2 separate regions of the Homo sapiens genome follow, and region 2 is linked to region 1. A link means that fine-mapping ties the variant in region 1 to the expression of a gene that starts in the linked region. Tissue or cell type: whole blood. Region 1 holds a variant in brackets; the other region holds the start of a gene. All regions are shown on one strand. Distances are from middle to middle.

Region 1 (8,311 bases):
ATCTGAATGAAGGGATGAAACTCCTTTGAGTGTTCATGCATTATTTTGGTCACGTCCCATTTAAAGCTGAGTTTTTAGAAACATGGATTAACTACAGTACAAGAAAATCAATTCAATGAGTGGTAGCTGGCATTAAGTGAATAAAACAGTAAAACAGAAAAGTTGGGGTGCATTCCATGTGCTTTGTGAAAGTTTTCTTTCACTTGTATGTGTTTGCACATACAAGTGCTTTTGCATGTTCGTATGTGAACGCACACACACATATATGTTTGTGTGTTTTGGCTCCCTGTCTAAAATGTTCTTCTTACTACGGGTCATAGTTTAAACTTTTTGAAACCATTATTCTAAAGGAAGAAGGGGGAGGAGACATATCTAGCTCCCACTGTGTGTCCAAGGGTGCTGACACTGCCTCAGTGAAAAGCTAAGGTTTGGGTTTTCACAGGTCTTATCCAGTGAGCCAGCACATAACTAAAATAAGAACAGCTAACATACTAGGCCCTGTGCTAAGGCCATTTACCTATACATTCATTACACATATTAAATCACAGTGACCCCTTATAATAGGTACTGTTGTTATCACCTTCATTCCACAGATGAGGGTAATCAGGCATTGAAAGGACCCCACCATTAGTGGTAGAGTCAGAAGGACTTTGTTGAGTCTTCACCCCTACCCAGTGCTTCCCAGTGACCTGCTCCAATTATTTCCTCGTCTTGGCTCTCTTAGTTCATTTAACCCTCATGGAGTTGTTGAAACTCTTTGATTGCAATGTTATCCATGCTAACAATGTCCAGTGCTAGTCGTCATCCTCATCACATTTATGGATTGTCTGCTATGTGCCTGGGGCTGTTCTTGACATCTTATATACATCTTTTCCCATGGAACAATATTTATCATTCTTATGAGTAATGTAAGTGCCTAATCTATTTTAGTCTTATCTGTCAAAAAAAAAAGCCCTACTACTGGTCATAACCCATAAATTGATTTCACAACCTGTCAGTTTAACTCAGTTTGAAATTATTCCTTAGCCTGTGTTTACCAAGAAGTAAAATATCTGTGAAGGAATTTAATTAGCACACATTCATACTGGTATTTTCTTAAGTGAAGGCCAACTTTAGTTTGTGAGTTATGATTTTGACTGACATATTTTTATAAGCAGGCAACCTCCATGACGCTGCATACCAGAATATAGCTATTTATAGTTTATAAACTGCTTTCACATATTTTTACATCTCATATAATTTTCACAGTAACGTGGAACTTTGAGCATGATCATCCCCTATTTTGAAGCTAAGCTAGCAGATTCAGAGGTGCTAAGTGACCTGCTCAAAGTCATTCAAGTGAATTAGGAATGGGGACTTTTGACCCAATATTGTGTTTCTTTCCTTTTTATAATTTATATTTTGCTTTCCGATTGCAAAAGTAACATGCATTCATTATTTGAAAATACTCCAAAGTACTAGAAAGAAAATAAAAATTACTTTCTTAGTGATAATCCCTTTTAATGTTTTTGGGTATTTCCTACTTATTGTTTGGGGTATTTTGAGTTTCGCTTTTATCAAAATAGCATGGTCTTTGACAGCCCACATAAGGATGGTAGAAGCAGGAGCCTCTTCAAGGGGAGGGCTGTTCCCACGCCAAAGCCTTCTTTGCGAATGCTGATAGAAGAACTGTTTACCAGCCTCTTCTTCCTTTCCTTGGGAATACTTCAAAGATCTATGCAGTGCAAGGTGGGGGAAGTGGGAAAGGTGGAACCAGATTCAAAAGTTTTGGGACATTATAGGTTTAAAGTGGAAAAATCATAAAAGAGTTATTCTGATGAAAACTACTTAACACCAATTTGAGAGAGAAAAAAAGAGAGTGGTGGGGGTAGTCAGGTAGTGGGTAGGAAGAGTGCATGCTCTCCTGAGGACCCAGGGTCATGTGGCTTCCAGGATACTTATATTCCTAGTCTGCAGCAGAGTTAGGACTCACACTCGAGGTCCAGCCTCTGCTACCTGTGCAACCTACAAATCAAATCCACCTTGAGTTATAAAGGTCCTTATTTACATTATTTTGTTTATGCTTAAAGTTTTTATATGACATGTTGCTTTTTGATAAGAATCTATCATAAATGACTTGGTTGGGGCTCAATAGTCTTTTTGTTTTTCATATGTATGGTATATATATGTTTTATACATATTTTATGTCTTATATATTTATTATATACATAAATATATGGAATTGACTTATAATCATGAAATCAATAAATTCTTAGTAATGTTTGTAAGATTTGCACATGTTCCCATTTAATGTATATTACATATATATTATAGATCATATAATATACATTACATATTAAATAGCAGTAAAAAGAGTAATAACAGTTACAAAGGCAAAAGAGACACAGTGCTTATCTGGACATCCTGGCCCATGCAATCCTTTTGAAACAATTACCTGTGTAAAGAAATGTGTTGGAGTGTCCTCCCACCACGACGTCCACACCCCTCACTTTCTGAGCGATGAGTTTATCCATTTCAAAACCCGAATGTCCCAGTGCAATAATTTTGTTCACATTTAGAGTTTTTAACTTATCTACTTCAGGTTGTAATGCAGTGATTTCATCTTCAAACACTAAATTTGTCCCTAAGGAACAAAATAAATAAAATGGATATTTATTAACAATTTTTATTATATTACTTAATATACATATTAACATGCAAAGGTTAAACACCTTAATTTACTAAAGCTCAAGAGTCAGTAAAACCAAAACATATTTATTCATTAAATACAAAACCCCTAAGAAGTAAATAAAAATTCAAATCAATATCCTCATTACATTCACTTTATGTTGTATTAGTTTAAGGTTGTGGATATTGTTTTGCTTGAACTTGGTTGCAAACTGTGAGGAGGCTTCAGATATTGTTTTATATATTTGTACATCTCAACTTCCACAATACCAATGCAGAAAATGCCTAAGCACGTAAGCATGATACACAAAAGAGTATTAGCAACTCCAAGACGTTCGTTGGAAACTTGGGATAATCAGTGTTCAAACTTAAAACTGTCAGCAAGTAGTCCTTGAATGCCTATTTTAATATGGCAGTTGATAACTTTGTCATGTTCTCTTTAATGCCAGCAGGCCAGGCACAGTGGCTCACGCTTGTAATCTCAGTACTTTGGGAGGCTGCAGCAGGCAGATCACTTGATGCCAGGAGTTTGAGACCAGCCCAGGCAAAATGGCGAAACCCTGTCTCTACTAAAAATACAAAAATTATTCAGGCGTGGAGGCACATGCCAGGTACTTGGAAGGCTGAGGCAGGAGAATGTCTTGAACCTGCCAGGCGGAGGCTGCAATGAGCCGAGACCATACCACTGCACTCCAGCCTGGGCAACAAGAGCAAGACTCTGCCTCAAAAAATATATAAATATATAAATAATGCCAGCATTAGAGCATTATTGAGCTCTGTGTTAATCAT[G/A]AGGGCCTCATCTAAATGTTGCTGGCACTGGGATTGTGTACATTCTTCCCTGGGTGCTTATTACTGCACATAGTGGTAACAAACGATAGCCTTTTGTTATCAGTAGTCAAGCATGGCTCTCACTGTGCAACCCAGGTTCTCTGTGTGCAGCAAGGCAACTGGTTCCTCCAACTGGCTCTGTTAGCCACATTTGAGGAAGCTTTGAGGTTTTATGGCTATCACTGGCATGAAGATGACTGCAAATACAGACATGCTGCCCTGAAGTCATGTCTGGTACTCTGTGACTAGGGAGTCCTCCAGTAGATCCAGACGTTCTTACACTGATTTCTAAGAACTAACACTAAACAAGGGAAGGAGGGTGGGAGAATGACATTTCATTAAAAGCTTTCAAAATGCAGGAGTCTGCAAACTCCAGTTTGAAAAGTACTAATCCAAAGAGTAACAAGATTATTAGAAATGCATCCCTTGTTCCACTGTGAGGTTTAGGAATGTCTGTGTGCTTCAGCAGGGGAACTCCTGAATCCTTAACATTAGCCAACTCCACAAGTGCAAATTACCATGGAAGATAATTCATGGCTGACATCATAGCCAGGGAGGCCCCAGAATGACAACCTAATAATTAGCAGCTCACAGATGTGTTGGACAGGCAAGGCTGTCTGTAACTCATAGGCAATGTTGAAAAATCAAGAGTTGTAGTTTTGCCACTGTTGTCTATTATGAGAACATCAAGGACAATCTGCTTCCTGTTGGTTGCCCCAAGAAGCCCAGGGCTCCCCGTTGACCCTCAGTGCTATGTTGCCTTCTATGTGAGCCTTTCCTTGAGCATCTCTTTGAAACAACAAGGTATACCTTCCCCCCTGCTGCACTTGCCATTCCCCTCCTGCTTAATTCTTCTCCACAGCCTTAGCACCTTCTGACATACCAAACCATTTACTCATTTATTGATTCCCCCACTGAATATGTAAGCTCCAGTGGGCAACTTTTTTTTTTTTGGTCAGTATCCCTGGTGCCTAAAACAGTGCCTGGCACACAGACAGGTACCCAGGGGAATGACTAAATGTCGAGAGTATGCTACCATCTTTTGCTTAAGGTATGGCTGCCAAGAAGGAAAAAAAATTCAGAGAAATGCCTCTGAGGACAAAGGAATGTATTCCTCTATTATATCAGAAACCTCACAGGACCAGGCATCCCATATATACAAAGCATGGCTTATATTTCAAGATGTCATGAGGAGAGTTGTATTTCAGGTATTTAATGATCTAGCTAAAATAAATTAGATTAAATGTGCTAGAAATACAGGTTATAACCCTGTGGGTGCCCAGGCCACTAGGACTGGGAGAACTGGGCTTGATTAGGGTCAAAGAACTGTAGGAAGAACCCACACCAGGCCGCTGGGCCTGTAGTCTTGGAAGAAGCAGTGCTCCTGGAAACATTCTATTCCACCCCATCCCTTTCCCCCCACACTGGGCCCTGCAAAATGCAGCCCTCTCTTCCAGCAGCTGCTGGAAACAGCAGTGTCACTTTTGATCCCCTCTCTGTTACAGCCTGGTAAAGGGCTGGTCAGAGTCCCAGCTGGGGCAGTTTGATTTCTGGAGCTGCTGTGCCTTTCCACCAAGACCTGCACCTCCTACCTCCTTATGGGTGCCTTTTAAAGAAGAGACAATGCTTTCCTCCAAATCACACCTGAACTTCTCAGCCCTACAATCTAGCCCTGATCCAACTTTCTAGCTTTTCCTAGTCAGAACCCATGCTCCAGGAAATGGAACTATCTGCTGTTCTGTGACTGTGGCCCCTATACCTTCCTGCTCTCATGTATTCATCCCAGCAATGCTTCCTGAGGACTTATCATATGCCAGGCACTGTGCACAGTCATTGGGCAATAGTGAGACAGCAGAGGTTTCTGTCCTCATGGAGCCTGCATCCTAGCTTGTGACTCTGACCTCACTTCTGGAATGTCCTGTGCCCCAGGGATGTTTTACACAGCTCTCAAGGGGACCAAGGAGGTTCTTCAGCAAGTAAACCTGACCCCAGGGTGGGGTTGGGGGGTTCTTTAGCAAGTTCTCTCACTCTTCTCACTGACCACTCCAGCCCCAGCCGCTCCACCCTGCCTCCAGCTCTGCCTCTATGCCAGCTGCAGGACCCGCTTGCTGCTCTCAGCAAACACAGCTGACTTTTCTGTTGTTGTTTCCAATGGCCTGGACTTATTTATTTTATAACAACAACAACAGTAAATATATATTTTTGAATTGTCAATTATATGTCCTTTATCAGTTAGTTCTTAATGAAAACTCATGTTTCTAGATAACCCTGGCTCCTATTTTCCCTTTTTTTCTTCAAATATGGAAACACATTTAATTTGGATAATTTAAAGAAAATGTCATTTTTGTTCTCATTGCCAAAATATTCCAAAAAGTTTTCTTATAAAAGTGCCTCAAAATAGTTTCTTGAAGGGTCTTAAGATTATATATGTGTGTGTGTCTTATATGTATGTATGTATATGTGTCATATATGTATGTGTGTGTCTTAAGATTATATATATTATATATACATATGTGTATATATGTCTATAAATGTATATACATACACTTATATATATCCATATATATCATAAGACCACTATATATATTTCCCAGAAAGTCAGATACAAGAATGTCATTAAAACGAGATGAATAATGAAAAGCGAGAAAGGTGAGTTAGCTGGACATGTAATAATCATCCTAGAAAAGGAGCAATAAGGTAAATTGAGGTAAAACTCTGGCTCTGTGCTCATGGCTCCACAGGAGAAGGGCAGTGAGTTTTGAGGCTCTCATTCTCTAGTAAATGAAACTGTACTGTTTAGCACTGGCTATACATTGTCTCCTCTTCCCATTTTGAAAGCACTGAATTAGACAAAGATACTGTTTTTGTCAACAAAGAAGTTCACTGAGCAGAAGAGGACATCTCTTTAAGAAGTACCTTGGAACAACAGCATAGAATTTACCAGATTGCTTTTATCAGTGTTATTCTAGTGCACTATTTACCCAGTTGTTCCTACTTTTATCTACAGTCCATAAATATAATGCCAAGCTGTGATTTAGGGCATCTATTTTCAAGCATTGAGTGCTATAAAAGTAGAAAATACCTGGATTTGAGAGAAAAGGGGTTTCTTTGGAAGTGTATCCAACGATTCCCACAACTTCATCACCAACAGGAAGAACTTTATATGGCAAATAAAGTCCTGATATTTGAGATGCTAGTGGCCCCTTTGCTTTAATGTTTGCACTCAGAATTGGAAATTTGGCCTCTTTGAGGAGTGGCTCGATCAGTCCTTCCACACCATTATCAAATTCATGATTTCCCAGTGCCTAGATAAAACAGAAAAGAGAAAAAGAATTAGGTGCTTTAAAAACATAACATTAGTCCAGTATTTCTCAAAACTGACTAAGCTCTATGAGACATATTGCATGATTTTGTGTCCTCCTCACCTGGGTCAGGCCCAGGGACATTCAGATCATCACATTGCTTGAGAATTGCTACCCAGGTGTCACACCACCTAATAAAGGTGGTTTGCCAATGTGCATACGCAACACCTGGAGAGCTGGCCAGGGGTCCACTGTCCCACCATCTCAGATTGGGGGCAGGTTTGAATGTTCACATTTACCAGCCTCTGCCCAATTTTTCCATGTTGTTTTTCTCTCATAAACCCACATTTCAGACCCCATGATTCAAGCCGCGATCTGCTGGAGAGAATGATTAACATCAGCAGGACTTTAGCAAAAGGCAACCTGAAATGTATGGTTGGCAGAGACCAAAGGCCTCCTTCCTCATTTCACCTCCTAGGTCATCATTCACCTAGGTTGCCACAATTGCTTCTTCCCAAGCACTCCTGTGGTCCTCTAATTCTTCTGGGAAAATGAAGTTCCTCAATAGCAGGCAGGAGCTAGCATCTCCATATGTTCCAGTGTGGCTCTGGCTTCCTCCTCCAGTCAGCTCTGGGCACCCTTTGCTCCAGTCCCAGCAGTTTCACATCTGGGGAAGAACTCCATGGTGAAATGATTAGGTGACCTTCAGCGGGTTCTGTACCTGCTCCCAGCGCAGGGCTTCAGGAGGAGCAGGGATGGTGACAAGCAATCCTTGTTTCCCACCTTCTTATCTCTCTCCCATTCCTCACTGGTTGAGGAGTGGCTGCTGGGTACAAAACCACCCATTGTCTGTCATTTTGCAGCTCCCCGTAGTGAGTTGGGGGCTGGGGGGGAGTGGAGGGAATCCATGCAGAGGCCCCACTGACAAAGCATGACATGTCAGCTGGCTTCCCAGAAAACCTTCCTCTCCTTCCTCCATTGGCCTCCTGGATACACCCATCTCCTTGGGCCCCCTACCCTACCTGCTCTGGCTGCCAAGGCTGGTTTGCTAACTTAGTACTTAAACCAGCAAATCTCAGACTTGCTAAATACCACATCCAGTTTCGTTTCACTTTGTGGGTCATCTAGGAACAGGCATGAAGTACTGGCTGGTGACCCGTCCATTTAAATGAGGGCCTGTGCACTCTCTTACAGCCTCACCCTCTTCCTTCCTTGCTCATTCCATACTCTGTAATGGCATGTTAGCAGGATCTTTCTTTTATATCAGTCTCCTGACTATATGAGTGCTCCTGGGCCACCAGGCCCTGCCACCTCTCCTGCTCAGTGCTGTCCCCCTCCTTGGCACGCAGGCATTCACTGAGTACCTGTGCCTGCAAGGGTTGTGTATACATCCTCATGTGAATGTGTTTGTGCAGAGAAAGCACAATGTGTTTATATTCCTACATACTTGTCTCCCCTATTAAATTCAGAATTTCTAAATTTGCCTTTTCCCCCATCTCTGATGATCTCATTTT
Region 2 (8,311 bases), 210 kb before region 1:
AAAAAATTGGTCAGGTGTGGTAGTACACACCTGTAGTCCCAGCTACTTGGGAGGCTGAGGCAGAAGGATCACTTGAGCTAAGGAGTTCCAGGCTGCAGTGAGCTGTGATCACACTACTACACTCCAGCCTGAGTGAGCAAGACCCTGTCCGTATAAAAAAGAATAATAATAACATGGAAGGTTTTTTTTAAAAAAGGATTGGACTGTATATCACATATGTAGTACCTCTCTTACCCTAAGACTGTGGTTCTCAAACATCTATATGAATCACCCTACACGTGTGCTGTCCAATGCAGCGGCCAGCCACATGTGACAACTGAGCACTTGAAAAGTACAGACCACGCATGCACGTAAATGTTCATTGCAGCACTATCCACAATAGCAAAGATATGAAATCAACCTAAATGCCCATCAATGACAGATTGAATAAAGAAAATGTGGTACATATATACCATGGAATACTATACAGCCATAAAAAAGAATGAGATCATGTCTTTTGCAGGAACATGGATGGACCTGCAGCCATCATCCTTAGCAAACTAATCCAGGAATAGAAAACCAAATACTGCGTGTTCTCACTTATAAGTGGGAGCTAAATGATGGGAACTCATGAATACAAAAAAGGGAACTACAGACACTAGGGCCTCCTTGAGGGTGGAGGGTTGGAGGATGGAAGGGAGCAGAAAAAATAACTACTGGGTACTAGGCATAATACGTGGGTGACAAAATAATCTGTATAAAAAAATCCCTGTGATACGAGTTTACCTATATATAGCAAACCTGTGCATGTGTCCGCGAACCTAAAAGTTAAAAAGTAATAAATGTACAGACCAAATTGAGATGTAAGTAAAAAATACACACCTGATTTCATTTACTGCATACAAAAAACAAATGGAAAATATTTCAATGATTTTTACATTGTTTCTATGTCAAAATAAAAAACTTTGATTATATTTGGGTTAAATAAAATAGATTAGAACTAATTTCATTTTTCTTTCCTTTTTTCTTTTTTTTTTTTTTTTGAGACAGGGTCTGGCTCTGTTACCAAGGCTGGAAGGCAGAGGCACAATCTCAGTGCACAAGCTCACTGCAACCTCTGCCTCCTGGGCTCAAGCTATGTTCTCACCTCAGCCACCACACCCGGCTAATTTTTTATTTTTGATTTTTTTTTTTGTAGAGACAGAGTTTTGCCATGTTGCCCAGGCTGGTCCCAAATTCCTGAGCTCAAGCAATCCACCCGTTTTGGCTTCCCAAAGTGCTGGGCTTACAGGCATGAACCACCACGCCCGGCCCATCTGATCCTTTTTACATTTTAAAAATGTGTGGCCTGGCGTGGTGGTTCACGCCTGTAATCTCAACACTTTGGGAGGCCGAGGCGGGCGGACTACGAGGTCAGGATATCGAGACCATCCTGGTTAACATGGTGAAACCCCGACTCTACTAAAAATGCAAAAAAAAAAAATTAGCCGGGCGTGGTGGCGGGCGCCTGTAGTCCCAGTTACTCAGGAGGCTGAGGCAGGAGAATGGCGTGAACCCGGGAGGCAGAGCTTGCAGTGAACCGAAATCGAGCCACTGCACTCCAGCCTGGGTGACAGAGTGAGACTCTCAAAAAAAAAAAAAAAAAAAAAAATATATATATATATATATATGGCTACTAGTACATTTTTAATTACGTGTGTAGCTTGCATTTGTGGTTCATATTATATTCCAATTGGACAGTATTGCCTCTAATGCTTGTTTAAAATGTGGATTTTTGGGTCCCACTTTTGAACATTATGCTTTCAAGGTTCCAGGTTCGGGCCCAGAAATTTGATATTTTTTAACTTACCAGATTTTAACTGGTAAGTCAGGGTAAGGAATCACTGTTTTATATGGCTTTTGACCAGGTGATGTTTGTGGTCTTCAGAATGGCAGAAACTCTATCTCTACGAAAAATACAGAAAAATTACAGGGCGTGATGGCGCGTGCTTGTAGTCCCACATGGTTGGTGGGCTGAGGCAGAAGGATCACTTGATCCCGAGATTGCAGTGAACAGAGATAGAGCCACTGCACTCCAGCCTGGGTCACAAAGTGAGACCTTGTCTGGAAAAAAAAAGTCATCTATATGTACTGATATGGAAAGATGTTTATGATATTTACAAGACGGACAAACAAGTTGCAGAACATATAGATCCCATTTGTATGTGAAAAACGAAGTACATATATTTGCATTTGCATAGGAAGTCTCAAAAACTGTTAACAGTGGTATTGCTGAAGAGTACAACTAGGGAGAAGATTCCCAGGCATGTGGAAAGATACTTTCACTTTGCTTTTTTTGTTAACTCTTTTTAAAAATTTTTTTAATACAATAGAGACAGGGTCTTGGGCTCAATCCTCCCACCTCAGCCTCCAAAAGTGCTCTAATTACAGACATAAGCCACCACACCCGGCCTACTTTGCTTCTTATATCCTTTTGTACTGTATTGTTTGTTTTACTATTTACTATGAGCAATATGCAAATTTATGTAAGACATTACAAAGTAATACAAAAACCGACAAAATGCCCGGCCCAGTCAATACTTCATCATATAGGTTCCTGTTAGAGAAAAGTGCTTTTCACTACTATCTTTGAATGTGAAGTTTGATCTTCATTCTAATTTTCTAAAAAGCCACCGAATGTATTTGTTCATTCATTCATTCATTTAACCATTACCGACAACCTACTTAATGCTAGGCACTGTTCTAAGAAAAAATAAACAGCAGAGCACGAAATCAGATGTGTTGCTCCCACACTCTAGCAGAATCGGACCGTAATCAAATGCACACATAAACAACTTTAATAAGTAGTGCTTTGAAATATAGAAGTGAAGAACGACCTGAATTTTCAAATACTGAAATGTTCAAATGTCGTGTGCACACACACACACGCAGACATATTCACTCGAACATGCTAATTAATCAAAGCACTGCTTTTGAATTTTGTGTTTGTCGTCTGGATAAAGTATTCAGGGATACTTCTCAAATTAATCTTTCTCTCGTTTTCAATATAACTAATTGAGTACAAAGAAGTTAAAAATTAGCAAAGCATTTCAGCTGTGTGACCTTAGGCAAATTACCTGGCTGTTTTAAGCCTCAGTTTTCTCCTCTGCGAAATGGAGTATTGAACCTCACGTTCGCTGTTTGAGGGAGACTTGTATGGTCACGTTTAGTGTAACCGGATGCCTGGCACGAGGAAGCGTGAGGAGGAATGGATCCCCATGGGGCCTTGATGCCCGCCCTGAGGCCCTGCAGGGCCGCACGCCGGGGCTGTTCTCACGTGGCGCTTTCCGCTTTTTCACCCAAGCGTTTCTGCCAGCCAACTGCCCTTTCCCGGAGTGCTGCGGCCAGGGCTCGCCCGCTCCTCCGGCGGCCTCCGCTGGGGGCCCACTACAGCCCAGCGCCAGCCAGCCAGCCAGCCCAGCTTCTCGAATCGGTCCTAAGCTGAGGCCGCCCTGCGCTGCAAAACTTGTGTCCACTCTCGGACCCAATCTGTCCTGGACGGACTTGGCTCGTGGCAGGCGAAAGCGTCGTTTCCAACTGCAGCTGTTTGAATTCTGGCGCCACACCCGCGCCACGTAGGGCCAAGTCGGCCGCCAGACTCGTAAGAGACGCTTCGCAGTGCGCCTGCGGGCGCGCGCCGGGAAATGGCCGGGCGCGCGGCCGGCCTGCGGCGCGCTCCACAACGCGGAACGGGCCTCAGAAGAGCCACCGCGCGCGCTCCCGCTAATTCGCGACCACACCCCTGTCTACTTCCATGTCCAATAGGTGCGAGAGGGCGGGACGGCCTCGTTCTGACTCCGGGAGGCTATATAAGGAGCTACTGGCTGCGCACTTCGGTCTTTTACGTCGGCCTTCGCGAGCGTCTGGGCGGGTGGTAGGTGAGTGGGTATTGCGGGCTAGTATCCGAGCAAAAGATGGTGGCGCAGGCCGAGTTAAGAGCTTTAATCCTGTGAAGACATCTTAGTGAAGAGTTTAGAGTGCTGAGAGTTGAAAGCTTGCACGTGGGAAACGTGCGGCCGGACTGCCACATGTACTGAGGTTGAGTCGTGACGGCCACAGGCTCCGAGTTTTGGCGTGAGGAACCGCTGATCGGCCACGGGCGCCGAACTTGCTGGCCTCCGGCATGTGCCTGAGCGGCGGCGGAAAAACCACCTTAATTGGGGCGGAGGGTTAGTTTTAACAGCAAAGGGCCTTTACTAAAATGGCGAAGGCCTTCCGTCGGCGTTGTTTTAAAATGGGAAGCCTCGACCCTGTATTGAAACTGAGCTGTTCGAAGGCGGCGTTGTGTGCAATTCGGATTAATGAAGGGGAAGGGTTTTGTGTGGAAAAACGCCTTGGAGTGTGACATTTCTGCGAGAATGCTTAAATACCGATTTCCCGCAGGAACAATGGCGCTGTCTTCAGTGGCACAGTGGAGCAGCTCTGAAGATGCAAAGGTAAGAGCTTAGTTAAGCTTAGTTTCCAAACTAAAGGAGTAAACCTGTTGATTTACAGGAATAGGAACTGTTGCATCGTTTGAAATTTACTTTTTTTTGTTAGATACACGAAAAAACTTCCAGAACATCTGGGAGAATATTTAATGGAAAATCGCTTGGTTAAAACCTGACACTTTTAACAGGTATGTGTTGTTTTAGTACTTTATGATTGAGCATAGCATTTAATCCACACCTAGACTAAATCAAATTTTTTTTGTCAGTGAACAGCGTTCTGAGTGTGGACGAGTAGCCAGTGAAGATAATGAATGTCGAATGTGACTGACTAGCAGCTTCATTTTGAAGTAGGTTGTATGGCTTAAAAGTTCTGTAGTATTTGTACTATAATACTTGCCTTTTAGCATTACCTTGGTTTGTAGTCAGTGTCACAGAAGTGCAGTTTAATGTATTATGTGTACATATACAAGGTCTGATTGGTCTAATCAATGATGAAACCTATCCCGAAGCTGATAACCTGAAGAAAAATAAGTACGGATTCGGCTTCTGAGATTAAGACCAGTAATTCAGAGGTGGAGTAAATTTTGTTGCCGTGATTTTATAACAGTTGTGTTATAAAATCCTGGGTTTTTTTTTTTTCTGCCAACAGTGAGGGTCGCTGTCTGCCCATTGATAGAGGCCAGATTGTCTTGGAAGTTCCAAAGTTGCAACGATTTCTGTAAGTGGAGTTTTTCTGTTTGCTTAGAGATCAGTGAATATTGTGTCCTTGGTCTTATCTGTGATGATCTTATCCCGAACCTGAACTTCTGTTGAAAAAAAAAAACTTTTACGGATCTGGCTTCTGAGATGGACCGTTATAAGGACAATATTTTTTTTTAATACTTTTAATGCTTTTACATATGTTGTAATGTTTGTAGTCTTGTAAGAATCTCGTGTTTTTCCTTTTCTAGGGCTAGTGCCACGAGGTTTACTTGACTGTTGTGTGAAAAGCTGATAAGAAAACCATCCAGAAAAAAGCTCTTCGTTTTACAAACATGAAAATAAAACATGTAATTTTGGATTATGTTCCTTTTTGTTATTACTTTTAAATAGGTCCTGAAATAACATGGGGAGCATTAAATGGAAAATCCACTAACCAGCCTTGTAATCAAATTACTGTGAGTGAATGTTTCGGGTTTGTGCAGGGTACAATGTAAGGGTTTTTGGATCAGTGTAAGAGTGGAGAGACAGGAATTAGAAGTAATTGTTACTAAGCAAATCATGGAATATTTAGTTTTGATGTAACTATAATTTTGAAAGCCTGGATGCTTAAGTTGAGAAATGGGGGAATGAGATACAGAAAATAAGGAGCACAATAGAATAATAATAGCAGTTTATTAAGTATGGTCATGAGGGAAGGTTACTGATAAAACAATCTGGTAAAGACATTCAGGCTTGCTAAAATCTAGGAAGAGGTCATTTGGCAGGATGGGTTACATAATGCTATCTGATACTACCAAATAAAATGAGAGAGAAGCCTTAGGCATGTAACGTTTGGAGATAGAAAATGTACCTTCACTATGAAGGTAGTGTGTGTAAGATGGCAGTTGAAAGCATTGCTTGTGTTTATGTTTATACCCTTGATCTCTGATGCCCTTACCTACCGTACTTAAAACTCTGTTAATCATTGTCTTTCTCCCCCTCCCACAACTTCTGCATAAAATTTTAAGATCTGTGTTTCATTAGTTCAAGAGTGCCTAGAATAGGGCCAGGCACTGTTATACAGTATGTGGTAAAAGACTATTGAGATTCCAGTTTTCAAGGAAGAGTGCCATTACCGTTTTGTTAAAGCTGGCAAACAAGACAAAGTTGTGAAATAGACTGGTTGCTTTGGAGCCCTCTGACCGCTTTTCCTGTAGCTCCTTCTACCTCCCTTGCCTCCCAATAGATTTTTTAATATGTCACATTATCTATCGAAATTAGTACTCCACATTTATATGCACTGGCTTGTGCTAGGCTCTGCCAAGACTCCTGAAATAAAACCGTTTTGTCAACAGTGGCACAAGATGCCAAGGAAAAGTCAAGCTATGAAGGATTCTTGAAAATAGAACAAGTGGATTTGAGTCTAAACCAGCACAGATGTTGGGACAATAGGCCTAAGAAATAACTGAGCAAAGACAGTATGGTTCAGAGTCTGAGACAAATATTGAGGATTTGGGTACCAACAGGGTGGATAGGTGTAGGACAGAAAACTGATGTTATAAATACCCTTAAGATTCTTGAGCAAGGAAGTTACAAATGTAAGACTATTCCTGTAATGAGAGTCAGATCCAAAAAGGTTTAATTTGAATGGAATTGAACTTGAAAGTTCAGTTTCAATTACTGACTCCTTGATGGCAATTTCTAATCACACAGGAGGCTGTTAGTCTGTCATAGCCTCCTAAAATCTCAGGCGATATTGGTTAAGATCAGTTTCCTAAGTTTACCCTCCAGAGCATAGCTGCTGCTTGGGACCAGGTGCAGTGACTCATGCCTGTAATCCCAGCACTCTGCTTGAGCCCAGGAAGAGACCAGCCTGGAAACAGCAAGTTGTCATCTCTATAAATAAGTAAAACTGGGTGTGGTAACATGCGCTTGTTCCAGCTACTCGGGAGGCTGAGATAGGAGGATCACTTGAACCTAGGAGGTTGAAGCTACAATCAGCCATGATTGCACCTCTGTCTTCTATCCTGGGCAACAGACCAGGCTAAAAAAAAAAAAAATCCTTAAGGAGCTTGACTATAATAGACTGGGATATGCTTGATTCTGATTGGTTTCAGAAGTTGAAAGATAATTTACGTGTCTGACTTTAGTGACTTCAGCCAACAGGAATTTTTCCTCTGCCTTACACCAGGCTTCCAGGTAATCTTAAAATACAGTAAGCTCAAACCTACCATTTGGTGCTTTCTAAAATTAGTTCTATTGCCAGAAACCCAATATCCACTGTGCTTGGCTCCCCAGTCAAGTGTCCTGTGAACTAACATCAATCCTCACTGCCCTGTGTATATGAAAGAGCTTTCAGCTGTTTTCATGGTTTTTCTAACAGTTCCCCAGTTGGGATTAGAGCCTTTGTTTGAATCAGCCTACTAGAATAACCTGCTTATCTTTTGCCAGTCCTTTAATAGGAGTGGGACCCTCCTTCCTGCCTTTTCAAAAGCTTGGTTCTGGATCCAAACAATACTTATAGTACTTAGTTATAGGTATATATTAGTATACATGACTTAACTGTCTGAATATTGCCACTGCCTCTGATCTTACTCCATCCTGTAGAGTAACATCTTGTAGAGAGCATCTTGGGGCAGAAGAGGATACATTTTCAGTATGAGAACCAGACTCCTTGTCTTACTCTCATGAGTCCTGGTCTCCTCCTGGTACTACTATTCCACTGCTGAGGTCTCAGCATGCCATATAGCTGAGTTTGTCAGAGTTAATGAGGGTTTAATCAGAATCCCAAATCAAGTACAGTCCAGTCCAACCTATTTGAGAACTTTATCTTTCTTGTTACTTCATTTATTATAGTTCACTTCAAAAGAGCAATGGAAAAGGCACTTCAGAATATGCAAAAAATGTATCATTTGAAGGCAATAATTTACAAATATGCATTACTTCACTGAGATCAGGAAACTTTTGTCCTTGCCTCCTGTAGTGAATATAACTGATGTACAAAAATGTGTACATTTAAAAAGTATACAATTTGATGGGTTTTTCATAGGAATATACTCATGAAACCATCAACATAATCAAGATAATGACTATATCCATCACTCCCAAAAATATTCTATTGTTGGCTTGATTTTGAACATGTTAAGTTTAAATAGCACATGTTATTCAAATTGGGATTTTTG

Evidence for each region. PIP is the estimated chance that this variant, and not a neighbour inherited with it, causes the effect.
Region 2: it holds the start of SNHG5, and the variant in region 1 is fine-mapped to the expression of SNHG5 in whole blood (INTERVAL, PIP above 0.99).

What each region holds. Positions count from the first base shown.
Region 1 is chr6:85,465,549-85,473,859 of GRCh38, reverse strand. NT5E (5'-nucleotidase ecto) reads right to left here. Exons shown (of 9, transcript NM_002526.4): 2 at 6,578-6,800; 3 at 2,435-2,623. Among named protein-coding and RNA genes, the nearest start is that of NT5E, 20 kb to the right of the region's middle. RefSeq lists an enhancer at 8,027-8,116. The variant G/A (reference allele first, on the strand shown) is at 3,457.
Region 2 is chr6:85,674,279-85,682,589 of GRCh38, reverse strand. It overlaps SNHG5 (small nucleolar RNA host gene 5), which reads left to right and starts at 3,857. Exons shown (of 6, transcript NR_003038.2): 1 at 3,857-3,896; 2 at 4,402-4,454; 3 at 4,558-4,636; 4 at 4,715-4,795; 5 at 5,098-5,166; 6 at 5,399-5,583. SNORD50A (small nucleolar RNA, C/D box 50A) reads left to right here and starts at 5,222; the gene lies at 5,222-5,296. It overlaps SNORD50B (small nucleolar RNA, C/D box 50B), which reads left to right and starts at 4,931; the gene lies at 4,931-5,001. RefSeq lists enhancers at 3,887-4,046, 4,217-4,276.